Homo sapiens: one gene and its partner. The protein of the gene in region 1 interacts with the protein of each later gene in a pairwise test. Each region holds a gene or a part of one and is shown on either strand. Other genes may lie near its edges.

Evidence for each region.
Region 2: the proteins of SHKBP1 (region 1) and KCTD5 come close enough for resonance energy transfer, tested with the Homo sapiens proteins (one study listed by BioGRID).

The regions. Positions count from the first base shown.
Region 1 is NC_000019.10:40,579,115-40,587,348, reverse strand, and holds part of SHKBP1 (SH3KBP1-binding protein 1), read right to left. Parts: intron 7,026-8,234; coding exon 6,864-7,025; intron 6,784-6,863; coding exon 6,693-6,783; intron 6,604-6,692; coding exon 6,413-6,603; intron 4,999-6,412; coding exon 4,883-4,998; intron 3,952-4,882; coding exon 3,864-3,951; intron 3,749-3,863; coding exon 3,632-3,748; intron 606-3,631; coding exon of another isoform or gene 576-605; coding exon 405-575; intron 1-404.
Region 2 is NC_000016.10:2,698,907-2,706,522, forward strand, and holds part of KCTD5 (BTB/POZ domain-containing protein KCTD5), read left to right. Parts: intron 1-914; coding exon 915-1,010; intron 1,011-3,446; coding exon 3,447-3,572; intron 3,573-7,616. UniProt on the Homo sapiens protein: Its interaction with CUL3 suggests that it may act as a substrate adapter in some E3 ligase complex. Does not affect the function of Kv channel Kv2.1/KCNB1, Kv1.2/KCNA2, Kv4.2/KCND2 and Kv3.4/KCNC4.

The sequences.
Region 1 (8,234 bases):
CAAAGTTCTGGGATTATAGGTGTGAGCCACCGCAGCTGGCCATTGATGTCCATTTTTATAGATTTATTGTCTGCCATCGCTGCTAGAATGTCAGCTCCACGAGGGCAGGGACTTGGCCTGTCTTGTTCATCACTGTATCCCCTATGCCTGGCACATGGTGGGTGCCCCGTAAATCGTTGCTGAATTGATGGATTCCCAAACACACACAGATTCACTCTTCCCCAGACTGATCCCCTATGGTATTCTCTCACTTCTGCAATTACAGTCCCATCCCAGGTCAATCCTCTCCGCCAGAGCTCTCTTCCTACACAATGTCCCTCCCCAGTGGAAATTCTCATCCTCCTGTCTCCACACTCCCATCTGAGCTGTCTCTCCCAGCACTGGAGCACCCCACAGAGGCTCACCTGAGATGAGGTGCTTCTCCGACAGCATGATCTTGGTGACAGGGCTGCGGTGCACAGTGAAGGTCTGGAAGAGCTGAGGCCCCGAGCCCACAGTCTCCGGGTGCTGCACGATGACCCGCACGCCCCCTGAGCTGGTGCCATAGGCGATCTCGATCCAGTTCCCACTGTCACCTGGTGAGGGGCCAAGGATGAGGAGAGGGCCTGGGCCACAGAGACAGAAACCAGGGCAGGGAGAAAGAAACAGGCACAGAACAGAGACACAGTCAGAAAGCAAGGAGAGGCCGGGCACGGTGGCTCACGCCGTAATCCCATCACTTTGGGAAGCTGAGGCGGGTGGATCGCTTGAGGTCAGGCGTTCAAGACCAGCCTGGCCAACGTGCTGAAACCCTGTCTCTAGTAAAAATACAAAAATTAGCTGGTGGTGGTAGTACGCACCTGTAATCCCAGCTACTCAGAAGGCTGAGGCATGAGAATTGCTTGAACCCAGGAGGCAGAGGTTGCAATGAGCCAAGACCACGCCACTGCACTCCAGCCTGCATGACAGAATGTGACTCTGTCTCAAAAAAAAAAAAAGAAAGAAAGAAAGAAAGAGACACAGAACAGAGACACAGTCAGAAAGCAAGGAGAGAGGGAAGGACACAAAAAGATGGTGATGAGATGTGGGAAATGGAGGAACAGGGAGACAAAGGCACAGGTCAAAGGAGGAGAGGCCCAGAGACAGAAATTGTAACAGTGAAACAGCAAATAAGAGAGGAAAGAGAAAGTAAAACAGAGAACAGAGGCCGAGGCAGGAAGATTGCTTGAGGCCAGGCGTTTGAGGCCAGCCTGGGCAACATAGTGAGACCCTCATCTCTACAAAAGATTTTTAAAAAACTAGTTGGGTGTGATGGCATTCACCTATGATCCCAGCTACTCAAGAGGCTGAAGTAGGAGGATCACTTGAGCCCAGGGGGTGAGGCTGCAGTGAGCTATGATTGCGCCACTGCACTCCAGCCTAGGTGACGAAGCGAGACTGTCTCAAAAAACAAAGAAAAATGACATAATAGTGGCATGTGGCGGGAAGGGAGATGAGGAGGAAATGAGTAAGTAAGTGAAATAAGAAAGAGGCCGGGTGCAGCAGCCCATGCCTGTAATTCCAGCACTTTGGGAGACGACGAGAGGAGAATCCCAGGAGTTCAAAACTTGCTTAGCCAACGTGGCAAAACCCTGCCTCTACTAAAAACACAAAAATTAGCTGGGCATGGTGGCAGGCACCCGTAATCCCAGCTACTTGGGAGGCTGAGTCTGGAGAATTGCTTGAACCCAGGAGGCAGAGGTTGTAGTGAGCTGAGATTGCGCCATTGCACTCCAGCCTGGGTTGAATGACAGAGCGATACTCTGTCTCAGGAAAAGACAAAAAAAAAAAAAAAGAAAGAAAGAAAAAAAAGAAATAAGAAAAGGGCCTTACAAAGAAGAAAGGTGATAATGTGTCATGAAGTTAGGTGTATTATTAACTTATTTCTGCTTTAAAAAAAAAAGAAAAGCAGCAGCAGCAGCTATGGCCAAGCACAGTGACTCAAGTCTGTATTTCCAGCACTTTGGAGGCCAAAGTGTGAGGATCACTTGAGCCCAGGAGTTCAAGAGTAGCCTGGGCAACATGGCAAAACCCTGTCTCTACAAAAAAATACAAAAATTAGACAGGTGTGGTGATGCATGCCTGTGGTTCTGCTGTTCAGGAGGTTGAGGTAGAAGAATCGCTTGAGCCCGAGTGGCGGAGGTGGCAGAGAACTCACATCATGCCACTGCACTCTAGCCTGGGCAACAGAGCAAGACCCTGTCTCTATTTTTTTTTAAAAAAGAATAATCCCTGCTTCACACCATACATAAAATTTAATTTCTGATAGAACAGACTTCCATGTAAAAACTAAACTGTAAATCTTCTAGAAGAAATTCAGGAGAAGATCTTTGTAACCTAGAATAGGTAAGGATATCTTAAGACCCAGAAAACACTAACCATTTAAAAAAATATGCTAAGTGAAAAATGCAGACACAAAAGACCATATAATGTATGATCCCATTTACAGGAATTGTCCAGAACAGGCAAATCCATAGGTATAGGAAGCATATTGAGCCTGGCCAACGTGGCGTAACCCAGTCTCTACTTAAAGTAGAAAAATTAGCCAGGCATGGTGATGCACACCTGTAATCCTCCCCTACTCAGGAAGCTGAGGCATGAGAATCGCTTGAACCCAAGAGGCAGAGATTGCAGTGAGCTGAGATCATGCCACTGCACTCCAGCCTGGGCAGCAGAGCGAGACCTTGTCTCAAACAAAAAGAGAAAGCATATTAGTGATTTCTAGAGGGTATCAGAAGTGAGAAATGTGGAGTTACTGCTAAAGATCAGGGGGTTTCTTACGGGGGTGATGAACATACTCTGGAATTTGTTCATGGTGATAGTTGTACAACCTTGTGAATATACTAAAATCCGCTGAATTGTGCACGTTCAAATGGGAAATTTTATGGTATGAGAATTACGTCTCAAAAATTAACCCATTCTGCATTTGATGTCAAGAAAACAAAACAAAAAACTGTCTCAAGTAAGAGAACTCAGGTTCATCTGCTGTAAAACCTGCATCTGTGTTGTTTTATGAACATGTGAACATCATGCCTTAATCACAAAGGTGGGAAAGAAACACAAAGATTAACTCCTAATGGTCCATTCTGCCCCTAGTGGAGAGGGTGGCCACCATCTAGCACCTAGAACGTGCTTATATACAGGGATACTCAGTAAATATTTGTTGAATGACTGGATGAGAGTTGAATCTGGCTGGGCGCGGTGGCTCACGTCTGTAATCCCAGTACTTTGGGGGGCTGAGGCGGGAGGATCATCTGAGGTCAGGAGTTCAAGACCAGCCTGGCCAACATGGTGAAACCCCATCTCTACTAAAACTACAAAAATTAGCCAGGCGTGGCAGTGGGCGCCTGTAATCCTAGCTACTTGGGAGGCTGAGGCAGGAGAATCGCTTGAACTCAGGAGGTGGAGGTTGCAGTGAGCCAAGATTGCACCACTGCACTCCAGCCTGGGCAACAGAATGAGAGTCTGTCTCAGAAAAAAAAATGAGAGAGAGTTGAATCTGCCGCCCCTCGATAAACCCCTCTGGGTCATGCTACACAAGTTGGGGGACAGCTGCAGGCTGGGGCTGGGGCTGGCAGGTGACAGCAGCAGGGGAAGCCGGGTCATAGCTTACTGGTCTTGGGGGTGAGGTAGACACTGAGGGCGGTGACCCCATCCTCCGCTGGGTCCCGATAGAGCTCGCTGACAAGGAGGTCGTTGTCTTTCATGCGCAAGGGGAACTTCTGCACATCTGGGGTGGGCAGGGAGGGTGGAGCGGGTTTGTTCCAAGTGCCCCAGCCTCTCTCCCTCCCTTCCCCTCTCCCAGGGGAGGGTCTCGGGCACCCGGGACACAGGCTGCTGCTCACCCACGTAGTAAATGGAGCCGTTGTTGCAGCCCAGGAGGAGGAAGGAGCCTGCCGCGTCATAACTGGTGATGGGCTGCACCTCCTGGACCTGGGGGTGGGGCAGGACAGGCTGCAGCCGGGAGCCCTTCCATTCCTTTCCTTCCGTGGTGACCCCTCACAGAGGATGGGCCCTCTCCTCCACCTCCAGAACCCACCCACTGCTCCCCAGCCCCGTCCACCCCAGGCCTGCCTTTGTCCCTGTCTTGTTCCCTCCCTTCCTCCCTTTGATGCATCTGTCTGTCTGACTCTTGGCCTCTCCTGGACTCTGTACTTTTTAAAGTTTTAATTTTTTAAATTTTTTGTAGAGACAGAGTCTTATTATGTTTCCCAGGCTGGCGTCAAACTCCTGGGCTCAAGCCATCCTCTTGCCTCGGCCTCCCAAAGTGCTGGGATTACGGGCGGGAGTCACTGCACCCGGCCTCCACTATGTACTTCTGACATGACTCTAATTCATCTCCATTTATCTCTCTGAGTTCCCCCATCTGCCACAGTGGTTCAGTCTGGTTTGACTCTGTCTACCCTTCTCTGTCACCTCTTTCTGATTTTCTATTTCTATTTGCCTGGTTTTCTGCCTCTCTGTCTCTTTCTCTGCCTCTGTCTGTCTTTCTCCCAAAGCCATCCTCCCACCTCAGCCTCCCAAAGTGCTGGGATTACAAGTGTGAGCCACCGAGCCAAGCCAGTTCTTGTCTTCTACAGCATCCCCCCTAACCTGCTCTCTCACCCAGTCCCAAGACAATCCTCCCTACTCCTTTTCAAACCCATTCATGCTTCATGTGGGCTCTGCAGCACCTCCTCCAGGAAGGCTTCCCTGGTGCTCCTTAGGCCTTTATCACAGACATCCCCAGGCTCTGGCCAGCTGCTGGTTCTCTGGCTTCCTCCAGGCTTAGGGGGTGGGGGTGGGGGCAGACGTGAACCCCTTCCTGGGTCTGTACAGTCTGGAAAACTGGGAAGGGGGCAGCCAGGCTGGCCAGAACTCTGACCTGCCAGTGCTTGGTGACGGCATTCCACACCCCGATGCGCCCTGTGTGGCTTGTAGCAATGAGCTGGTTCCCGACGAAGAACAAGGCCTCCACAGGCACCCCCAGATGAAAGACCCCTGCAGTGGGCAAAAAGGGCTCAGCTGGAACCCTGCCTCATGGAGGAGGAGAGGTGGGAGGAAGAACTCCAAGGACCAGAGGGTTCAGTGGGACCACAGAATCCTTGAAGGATAGAAGATTCCATCAGGGGCTGGGCACAGTGGCTCACACCTGTAATCCCAACACTTTGAGAGGCTCAGGTGGGCGGATCATTTGAGGCCAGGAGTTTGAGACCAGCCTGGCCAACATGATGAAACTCCATCTCTACTAAAAAATATAAAAATTAGCTGAGTGTGGTAGCACACAACTGTAGCCCCAGCTACTTGGGAGGTTGAGGAAGGAGAATTGCGTGACCCCAGGAGGCAGAGGTTGCAGTGAGCCGAGATCATACCACTGTACTCCAATCTGGGCAACAGAGAATGACTCCATTTCAAAAAAAAAAAAAGTGAAGATTCCAGCAGGAATTAGAGAAGATAAAATGGGCCAGAAGATTTCTGATGGGGTATGGGATTCTAAAACGGTCTGGAATTCTAACAGCACTGAGATTTGCAATAAGGCAAAAAAACCTCCACTGGTGGCAGGGGATTCTTACGAGGGCTGAGATTTATTTGGGGACAGATTAATAAGTCCGAGATTTGTTGCTGTGGCTTTGAGACAGGGTCTTGCTCTGTTGTCCAGGCTGGAGTGCAGTGGTGCAATCATGGCTTACATAGCTCACGGCAGCCTCGAACTCCTGGCCTCAAGCAATCCTCCTGCCATGGCCTCCCAAAGTGCTGGAACTACAGATGTGAGTTACTGTGCCCAGCCATAAGTCAGAGATTTCTTTTTTTGTTTTTTTTTTTTTTTTGAGATGGTGTCTCACTCTGTCCACTCTGTCGCTCAGGCTGGAATGCAGTGGTGCGATCTCAGCTCACTGCAACATCTGCCTCCCAGGTTCCAGTGATTCTCCTGCCTTAACCTCCTGAGTAGCTGGGATTACAGGCACGTGCCACCACACCCAGCTAATTTTTTTGTATTTTTGAAATAAAGACTGGGTTTCACCCTGTTGGCCAAGGGGGTCTCGAACTCCTGACCTCAAGTGATCTGCCCGCCTCAGCCTCCCAAAGTGCTGGGATTACAAGCATGAGCCACCGCACCGGGCCAAGTCAGACATTTCTCATGGCCACACAGAATAGCGCATTCTAACAAAACCAAGAGATCTAACAGGGCAGGGAATTCTGATGGAGGGAGAATTGTATGTGGGTGGATTTTTCTAGGAAGCCAGGGAATTCTAACAGGATACAGAATTCTGAAGGGCTGGAGCATTCTAATGACACAAACAGATCTAATAGAGCAGAGAATTCTTATGGGTTTGAGGATTTTATGGGGTGGGTCATTTTAACAGGCAGTAGAATTTAAAGGACAGAGGGTTCTGGAAAAGGCTTGGGGTCATACCTATCTCGGAGCCACCGCCTTCCGCCTGCAGAGCCCATAGCAGGATCTCGCTGCCGGTGGCTGCTGCCACCATCTTGTCATGTTCACCCAAAGCCCCACCATGCACCCGGGCTGTGAGCGCCAGTCGTTCGATGGGCCAGTCCAGGCGGGGGCTGGAAAACACCAGCTGCCAGCCAGAGGCTTCCTTCAACCTGTAGGATCGAGGGGACATCACCAACCCTCACCGCATGCCCTTCCCATCAACAGGGCTGGGACCTCCTGCCACTCCCTCCCCAAGCACCTGTAGCAGACTAGAAACTGGGTATAGGCCACAGCGATCCAATTATGGTGTCCACACACCAGGCGCACCATCCCCGGCTCCTCAGGTTGTCCTTGAGGGGAAGAGTAGGGATCAGAAGAGGGTCACAGGGACCCCACAGCTGCCCCAACCTTCCACGAGATAGAAACGTACCTGAGGGTGAGGGAGGGGTTTTCTCATCCAGCATTCGGCCCAGCAGCCCTGCATTGCCAAGGTTGGGGGGCATCGTGTTGCTCCGTCGGACAGGGGCTGGCCGTCCTCCTAGCTGCTGAGGCCCCACTAGGCTGTGCCGGTTCCGCCGCTTCACTGGGAACACTACAGTGAGAATAAGAGGTAGAGTAACAGTCATTGTAATCGTGGCTGTCACACAGCAAGCACTTAAAATATGACGGTGATTGATTTCCCCATGTGTGGGACATAGTCTCCGGGTGAAGATTTTAAGTGGTGCAGTGACACAGCATGAAATGACACTGAACCACATAGCAAGTTACTTCCCTTTCAGTTCCCTTGAGCCCAGCACAGAGGAAGACTGAGTTTAGTGCTGCTGTGATATTAATGAATCTGCAGTATTACCTAATTTTCCGTTTTTTTTTTTTTTTTTTTTTTTGAGTTGGAGTTTCGCTCGTTGCACAGGCTGGAGTGCAATGGCACAATCTTGGCTCACTGCAACCTCTGCCTCCTGGGTTCAAGTGATTCTCCTGCCTCAGCCTCCCAAGTAGCTGAGATTACAAGCACCCACCACGACACATGGCTAATCTTTTATATTTTTGGCAGAGATAAGGTTTCACCATGTTGGCCAGGCTGGTCTCGAACTCCTGACCTCAGGTGATCCACCCACCTCAGCCTCCCAAAGTGCTGGGATTACAGGCATGAGCCAATGTGCCTGGCCCTAATTTTCACTTTTAATAAATGGAAGACTGCACCCTTGGCAAGCAATAGCATCTAGCCAGAGTTGTTTTTCGTTTTGTTTTGTTTTGAGACAGCATCTCGCTCTGTCACCCAGGCTGGGGTGTAATGAGTGATCATAGTTCACTGCAGCCTTGACCTCCTGGGCTCAAGCGATCCTCGCACTCCAGCATCCTAAGTAGCTGGGACCACAGGTGCATACCACCACACCTGGCTAATTTTTTTTTATTTTTAGTAGAGATGAGGTCTTGCTGTGTCACCTGGGCTGGTCTCAAACTCCAGGTCTCAAGTAATCCACCTGTCTCGGCCTCCAAACTGCTAGGATTACAGGTGTGAGCCACTGCTACAGGCCAGAGTTTAATAACACTGCTATGTTTGGGTTTTATTTTCATGTTTACTTTGTATTTATAATATAAAGCTTGCATTTAAAATGATTATTATTTTTTTAATTAGCCGGGCATGGTGGCGAGTGCTTGTAGTCTCAGCTACTCAGTGGCAGAGCTGAGGTGGAAGGATGGCTTGAATCTGAGAGGCAGAGGTTGCAGTGAGCCAAGATCGCACCACTGCACTCCAGCCTGGGTGACAAAGCCAGACCCTGTCTCATAAAATTAAATAAAT
Region 2 (7,616 bases), on another chromosome or scaffold:
ACTCCCTGCCTCAGTCTACCTACCTGTATGACGCAGGTGGGCAGGAAATGGTGCAGGTGGGAGAGTCTGCGGTCCAGCCTTGCTGTGACACAGTAGCATCTCACTGTCTTGCAGAATAAAGCAACTCGGGCATGTGACCTCGAGGCCACTGTGTGCCTTTGTCACTCAGGCATCCCTGGCATGAGTCACCACCTTAAGGTCAGGGACCCAGGACCTCTGAACCCCTTCTCACTGCTGCGTTTCCGTCCAGCCCCGTCTGCAGCCTGAGTCCTCCGTAGTGACTGTCCAGGATGTGGGGCCACCCCGCCCACTGGGGAGCAGCTCCATGCAGGCGGGCGGCCCTGGTGGCTCACCATCACTCCCAGGACCACAGCTGCCTGGAGGGGCACAGCAAGCGTGCCAGGCAGGTGGGGGATTAGGAGGTGGATGGAGTTTTAGGAAGCAGCTCAGCCTTCGGGAGGCCCAAGTCCAGGCTGCCGCGCAAGTTCAAGAGCCTTTTTCTGGTAGCTGGGAGCGAGCTTCGTCTGGCACTGGCTCTCAGGGCCCTGCTTGCCAGAGCCTTTCCCGACCGATGAATTCAGGGCTGCACGGTTGCTGCGTGCGGAGCAGACGTGGACGCTCTCGTGTCGTCATGTCGAGCCACAGGTGCTCTTGGGATTTCAGGAACATGACTCATTTTATTTTGGAACTTAGAAATAGAAATATTTTTGGAGGCGAACGAGGAAGCAGAAAACAGCAGCTGTTCGGGCCGCGTGTTTTGCTTTTGTGGATGTGCTCAGGATTGCTTTGGGCCTCGTGCCCTGTGCTGAGAACTGCAGAGTGGACCTCAGCCTCCCTGGGTCACCTGGGCTGGGGCCACAGGCAGCAGTGGGACATGGGTGGCCCGCCCTTACCTGTGCCCATTGTCCTTGCAGGTGCCTGTGAAGCATGTGTACCGTGTGCTGCAGTGCCAGGAGGAGGAGCTCACGCAGATGGTGTCCACCATGTCCGACGGCTGGAAGTTCGAGCAGGTGAGGGGCCCTGGCCAGCCTGGTGGCAGCCATGCTGCAGCTGAACTTGTGCTCACAATGGCTCAGGGCTCAGTGCTCCTGGAAATGCAGACTTTGCTGCTGGCGTCTTCCTGCAGTTCTGGGGGTGCTCACGGCAGCGACCTGTGCCCTGTTTCCACTGGAGGAGCCTTGGGAGTTCGGGTGGGGTGGGCAGAGGTGTCTCAGGCTCTGCCCCGCACCTTCCCCTCCTCCCTGGCCTGCCTCTTCTTCCCAGCGCTGCGCTTTCTTCGCATCATCTGGCACCTCTGTGTGAGGGAGGGGACTGGCGTCCCCAGAGCCTCCTGGCCAGCCCACTATCCAGCGCAATCCCCGTCCCCCACAGCTCACTCCATCGGAGCATATGGAGGCCCTGACGCCTTTCCCAGGCTGCCTCCCCTTCCCGCCCATGCTGGAAGGTGCTGCCAGGCCCTCGTTGCCTTCTCTCTGGTTTTGGCAAGCTGCGGCGGGTGGGGTCTGATGGGTCTGTGCAGGGCATGCCTTCTTCAGCAGCTTCCACGGAAGCCACCTGAGTGCTGCATGGGCCACTGTGCCATGGCATTGTGGCTTGTCATCGGGGACCTCAGGACACGTGAGGCATGGCCTCTGACCGGGGGGCCCTTGCCCACGACCTGGCTGCCACTGTTCCTGGTGCTAGACAGACACTGAGGGTGGGGACAGTGACCTCACCCAGCCCTCCCTGTCCTGAGTTTCCTCTGTCACTTGCTTCTGTCTGGGGCAGGTTCTGTCCATGGCCCAGTGCGCCTGCCAGGTTGTGGGAGTGACAGGCTCAGCCAGTGTCCCTCTGAATGAAAGCTACCTTTTCCTTGGAGTCTTTCAAAATAATAGATCACATTGTAGGGTACTTGGAGCCCCCCCCCCCTTAAAATGTCACTAAAAACATTTGTGTCCCACCGTCCACCCTGGACCCCTAGGCCGGGGGCCGGGGTGACTCTGGGTCTCTGTGCTGACAGGGCTGCTGACCAGCTGCTTGGTCCCTGCCCTGCACCTCATCAGAATCGTGCCAGAGCCTCCCACGGGAACAGAAATCTTTGCTGCTGGGCGAGCCCCACCTCCCAGTTGTCCCTTGGTGGGGCTGGGGCCCTGGGAAGCCGTGTCAGCAGCTCGGGGTCCGCGAACAGGGCTGTCCCCATGTGGCACCTGTGCTCTTCTGCCACCGTCTTGTGACTTCTGGCTGGGAGGGAACAATGTCTCCTGCCCGTGGTGGGCACCTGCCTCCCGGGGCAGCTTCAGGTCTTCGACCTTAGCACTTCTGGGTGGATTCCAAACCCATTGCAAAGAACGGGTGTCCTCCCCCTTCCTTGATTACGACCTGCTTGGCACGCTTCATCCCTTGGGGACCCCTTCTCCCAGTTCATGTAGGGAAGCCGCTGGGCTGACCAGCTGTCCCGGCTGTGGGGTGGGACCCTGCGGGGTGCTGGGAGGTGGCCAGACCGGACCCAGGGTCCCCAGTGGTCAGCAGGGGATTGCAAGCAGGGCTTGGAAGTGGCTGTGAGGACACAGGGGCTCCGGGGGGCATGGCCGTGAGTGCTCCCAGGGGTACCCTTAGCTGCTTGGGCCCATGCCGGCACCCCTGTGGCCGCCTCACTGGGCTGGGTCCACTGCTGCCCACTGGGTCAGCCGCCAGCTATACAGGAGCAGCAGGTAGCTGCGGGCTGCTCTCCCGGCCGTTGGTCCAACTGCGCAGGTCTTAGAGAGGCCAAAGTGTGAGCCTCGTCCAGCTGCTTTTTGGCTTGGTCATCTGCTGCTGTCATGCTTATTGTGATTTGCGTATTGCCTTTTAATTTTCCCTTTAAAAGCACAGAAGTGCCTGGTGGCCCAGGGTAGCCAGCCATGGGCCAGATGCCTGGCCAGAGAGACAGGTTGGCCCTGGACCTGCATTGGCCTGGCCTGCCTGGTGACCCGGAGGGAGGCAGGTTGGAGTGGCCTAAGGGTGTGGCCAGCAGGCTGCAGCAGACCCGCCCTGGCCGAACTCCTGGACAGCACAGCTCCTCCAGCGGCTTTCGGTCCAGTCAGCTGGTCCCAGGCTCTTCCCTCCAGGTTTTCAGAGCCGCCCTCCACTCTCCTCCCGCTGCCCCCCTCCCTCCGCCCCAGCTCAGGGACCCGTCTGTGCTCCGTCCCCCTGGGGCAGCAGCCCCTTTTGGCCCAGCTGGAAGCGCCAAGGAAAGCTCAGGGTCCTCACAGAGGAAGAGCTCGCCCCATGCCATGCCACGGCGTGGGGTGCCGCCCCGTGTGCTCGTGCAGGTGTTCCGGGGATTTGTTTTCCATCCATTTCCTGAAGCGTCGGCAGTCTTTGCTGTGGCTTTCGCGGTGGCAGGCGCGTCCTGAGGCTGGTCATGTCAGCCTGGCTGGGTCTCTCAGGCTTCACTGGGCTGCGTCTCAGGCTATGTCTCCTTGCAGTTGGTCAGCATCGGCTCCTCTTACAACTATGGGAACGAAGACCAAGCCGAGTTCCTCTGTGTGGTGTCCAAGGAGCTGCACAACACCCCGTACGGTACGGCCAGCGAGCCCAGCGAGAAGGCCAAGGTGAGTGCTGGGCCGGCCCTGGCCTGGGGCAGTCTTGGGTGGGGAAGGCTCTTGCCCTCTCAGACCTTCCTCCTTTTCTGCCATTCTCATCAAGCTCCCGGTGTCCGCCCCTGGTGGCCTTGCTGACTTCTTGGACACACGGTCTCCCGTGGGACAGGTTCTCTCGACACAGGCTCCCAGTAAGCCCCTGCGGCCTCCCAGCCTGCATGCAGAGCTGCTCCTGGAAGGGGCCCCAGGCCTGCTGCAGGGGCCATGCTCTTAGGAATGCCACTGAGGGCTGTGTCTCAGGGGACCCAGGGTCCTCTGTTCCCCGGGCCCAGCCTCTGCTGTGTGAGTGAGGACTTGGGATGCTGAGGCCTGGCTGTCATAGGGGTCTGGGCCATCCCTGAGTGCAGGGACATGGGGGTCCAGTTGTCGTGGTGGGGGTCTGGGCCATCCCTGAGTGCAGGGGTGGGTACCCTGGCTCAGCCACTACGTGGGCCTCATCTTTGTCGAGAGGAGGGTGTCCTGCAGGCCCTGGGATTCTCAGGCTGCACAGAGTAGGCCCTTTGCGGCACCCAGCCTGGCAGCACCGGCGCAGACTCTGCGGGGGCTCAGGCCCTTCTGTTTTCTGCGGGGCAGGCAGCTGGGGTGAAATGCAGGGACCCCTGCCTCGTTTGCTTTCAGGTTGGCCCTGTGGCCCTGCCCACAGGTGACCCATTCTGGTGGCATTTCCTCTAAGCACGTTCTTAAGGTTGAGGCTCCAAGATGGACAAATGCGTCCATCCAAGCAGAATCTGACCTTGGCCTGGGCCAGCTGCACCTGGCAGGACTCCCGGACCTCAGAGCCAGGTGGTGGCTGGAGAGCTCTTGGCTGGGGTCTGCGTGGGTCTGGGAGAGCCTGGGTGGTGGGGCGGGCTCTGTGGGGAGCCAGCCTGGGGCGAAGGCTCGGGGCATTGGCAAAGGGTGTTGAGTGGGTGCCATGAGAGGCCAGAACCGGAAGGCTTTTAACTGGTGGCATTAAACCAGGGACACCTGGGCAACCGCAGACTCTTGGCTGGGGGCCTCTGGCCGGCCACCAGCAGCCCAGGACTGTCCCCGTGAGCCTCTCCGAGTAGGCCTTTGGAGGTATGCCCTTGGGAACAGAGGGGTGGGGCCGCCAAGCATGTCTCTCGGAGGCCTGCGGCCAGCTCACGGCAGCCTTTCCACCTCAGGCGACTGTCCTGGCCCAGAGCCTCCCTCGCTGGCCACCCGTTGTGCTCTTGCTGTGGGCAGAGGCCAGTCCTGCTCCACTGCCGTTCCTCGAGGCCGAGGCAGTGTAGGCTGGGGCAGGCCCTGGTGTGGGACAGCCGGGGTGGAAGCTGGGGTTCCACCGCCAGGCTCGGAGATGCTCTTCCATTTGAGTCTCGGATCTAGGAGGCGACCCCTGGCTCCCTGAGAGCCCCAGCTCAGTCACAAGGAGGCACTTCTCTTCCTCTTGGAGCAATCGTAGGGCTCTTTTCTAAATGGTTTTATTTTTAGAAGTTTTTTATTTCTGAGCTGAGTTTTTATAACCAAGCTCCCCTGGGCTCCTATCCCTCAGGTGGCTTGGCAGCTGCAGAAAGGACACGCTCTGTACTGTGAGGAAGCTCCAGGCATGACCCCAAATCCCTTTGTGGTTGAGAATGTGGCCCTATTTCATTTTCCAAAAATACCTGCTCTGAAGTGGGGCAGCTATGGCGGCTTCTTGATGGGGGTGGTGTCAGCAGTGCCCCAGGAGGCAGAGCTCAGGCCAGAGCCTCAGGAGGCCGTGGGGGATTGCGGGGGCCAGAGCTGGAGGACCGTGATGGGGGCACCCCTGGCTGGGCTGCGCAGGGCCGCATGGGCTGTGGGCCCTCGTCGCTGGTGTCCCTGCAGCATGTGTGGCCTGGCCCTGCTGGGCAGCTGTCCCCCACTTCAGTCAGCGGCGGCGGGAGAGCCTGGGTGGTGGGGCGGGAGGGGTTGCACCTGTAGCAAGTGAAGGCGGTCCACACATGAGCACACCTGCTTCCCACGCCAGTCCCTCAAGAACTTGCTAGAAGGACTCGCAGAGCTCACTGAGAGCGCTTAGACTCAAGGCCGCCATTTATTCCCAAGGAACAGAGAGAGACAGGCTCAGATCAGCAAGGGCGGGCACCTGGGCAGAGGCCGGGGTCTCCCAGTGCCTGGGCGGCTGAGGAGGGGGTTCCTTGGTGGTGTTGGGGCTCCATTGCGTAGCCATGCTCGATGGGTGCATCCACCGCCTGCCCCCGTGGCTGATCCCTCCTGTGACCCAGGGCCCCACCCTCCCTCCTGCAGCAGTGGGGCCAATGCAGTGGGGTCCACAGAGCCCACGCAGCAGAGGCCCTCCTATCAGGCCGAGATCTGTGGGCTAGCGCCGCCTGCCAGGAGTGGGGCCAGAGGCCAGGCGCCTCTGGACAGGGTTCAGCCCCTCAGCACATGGTGGGACAGGACCAGCCCCGGATCGCAAGATGCAGCCGCCTCACACGTGGAGGTTTCCACCTCTGAGATGTGGCAGAGCCCCTGAGCCTGTGTGTCCCCTCGTGGCGTGGCCTCACTGGAAGGTCACCGGGCGTGGGGGTTTGGGCCCGGGGCACCCGCCCACCCGCACTGTCCTGACAGCCTGTCTTCTCCCCCACTGCGCGCTGCACGCCGCCAGAGTGACGACGAGGACCAGGGGCACCCAGGGAGTGGCTCAGATTAAGTGTGAATGTCATGGTGAGCTCCGTGGCCTCCTTGACCCCATGGCCCCAGCTGACCCTTGCCACAGACCCTCCCTGTGTGTCTGTCCCTGCCTGTAGTTGACGAGAGCCGTCCGCACTCCATGCCAGCTGTAGATCCTCAGTAGCACTGTCTTGGTGGTGGGGCTGTTGCTGTGAGGCAGATGCCCAGGGGCAGTGTTGGGGCGTTTGTTGGGATGACTGGAGGGTGCCCGTGCCAGGCCAGGCTGTGGACATCAGTGGTCGTGAACCCAAGAGCCCCTCCTGGGGGCTGGGCAGGGAGTGCCACTCGTGCCGCCAGCCCTAGTGGGTGACCTTCCTGTCTGGCTTAGGCCACAGGCTCAGGGCCAAGGGGTCAGGACCAGTGCGGCAGACAGCAGACCCCTATCTCAGCTGCCAAATCCTGCGGCATCCCTGATGCGCTTAAGCCTCCCAGGCCAGCCGTGTCCTGCAAGCCCCTCAGCCACCCGGGCCTGCCTGCCTGTGGGGGTGTCTGGCCATGGGGTACAGCCTCAAGGGCCCCCTGGTTGGTGTCTGCAGTTGGACCTTCCTGTGGAAGATGGCCTAGGGAGACAGTGTGTCCAGAAAAGATGGGTCTCACCCCAGGCTCTGTCTAGAGTAGCCCGTGCTGCTCCCGGCCTTGGGAGGGCGAAGGACAGCACTTTGGCTGCAGGTCTCCAGGGTGTCTCCTGCCCTCATCAGGAGGGAGCTGTTGGGGCTCCCGGATGCTCAGATGCCACACTGCTCCTGGCCTGTCCGCTGCGCTACTTAGTTTTACACAGGGCTGGTGGGGGCTTGGGGGCTGCACTGTCTCCCCAAGTCAACTCCAGACATCCCAGTAAACTTGGGAATCACCCTGGCCCAGGGAGGGACGTGCTGCCCCTCGCACAGGGGGATGGGCTCCTCCGAGGCACTGGAGAGTGAGTGGGAGCCTCGAGCTAGAAGTGGTCCAGGGCACTGAGCCTGGGGGGCACCCGCCTGGGAACGGCAGAGCTGTTGGGGGGTGGAGTATTGGAGTCAGGCTGAGCAGCTCAGGGGACGTGGCCTCCAGGAGCCTTCGGAACAAGCCTGGGGTGGCATGCACCTCTCACCACTGCCCTCTCTCCGGTCAGTGCGGCATGGCAGTGACCTCTGGGAGGCTGTGCCCGGCGAGGGCGTGGGCGTTGCTGCCCTACCTGGTGTTGGGCAGCCCTCACGTGACACATGGAGACAGCTGTTGTGGGCCACGCACAGTGAGGCTGGCTGGCTCCGAAGCTCTCTGCTCGGGAGCGTGGGGTGATTTCCCCTCCACCTGGTCTCTGGAGCTGCCATGGCTCATTTTGGGAGT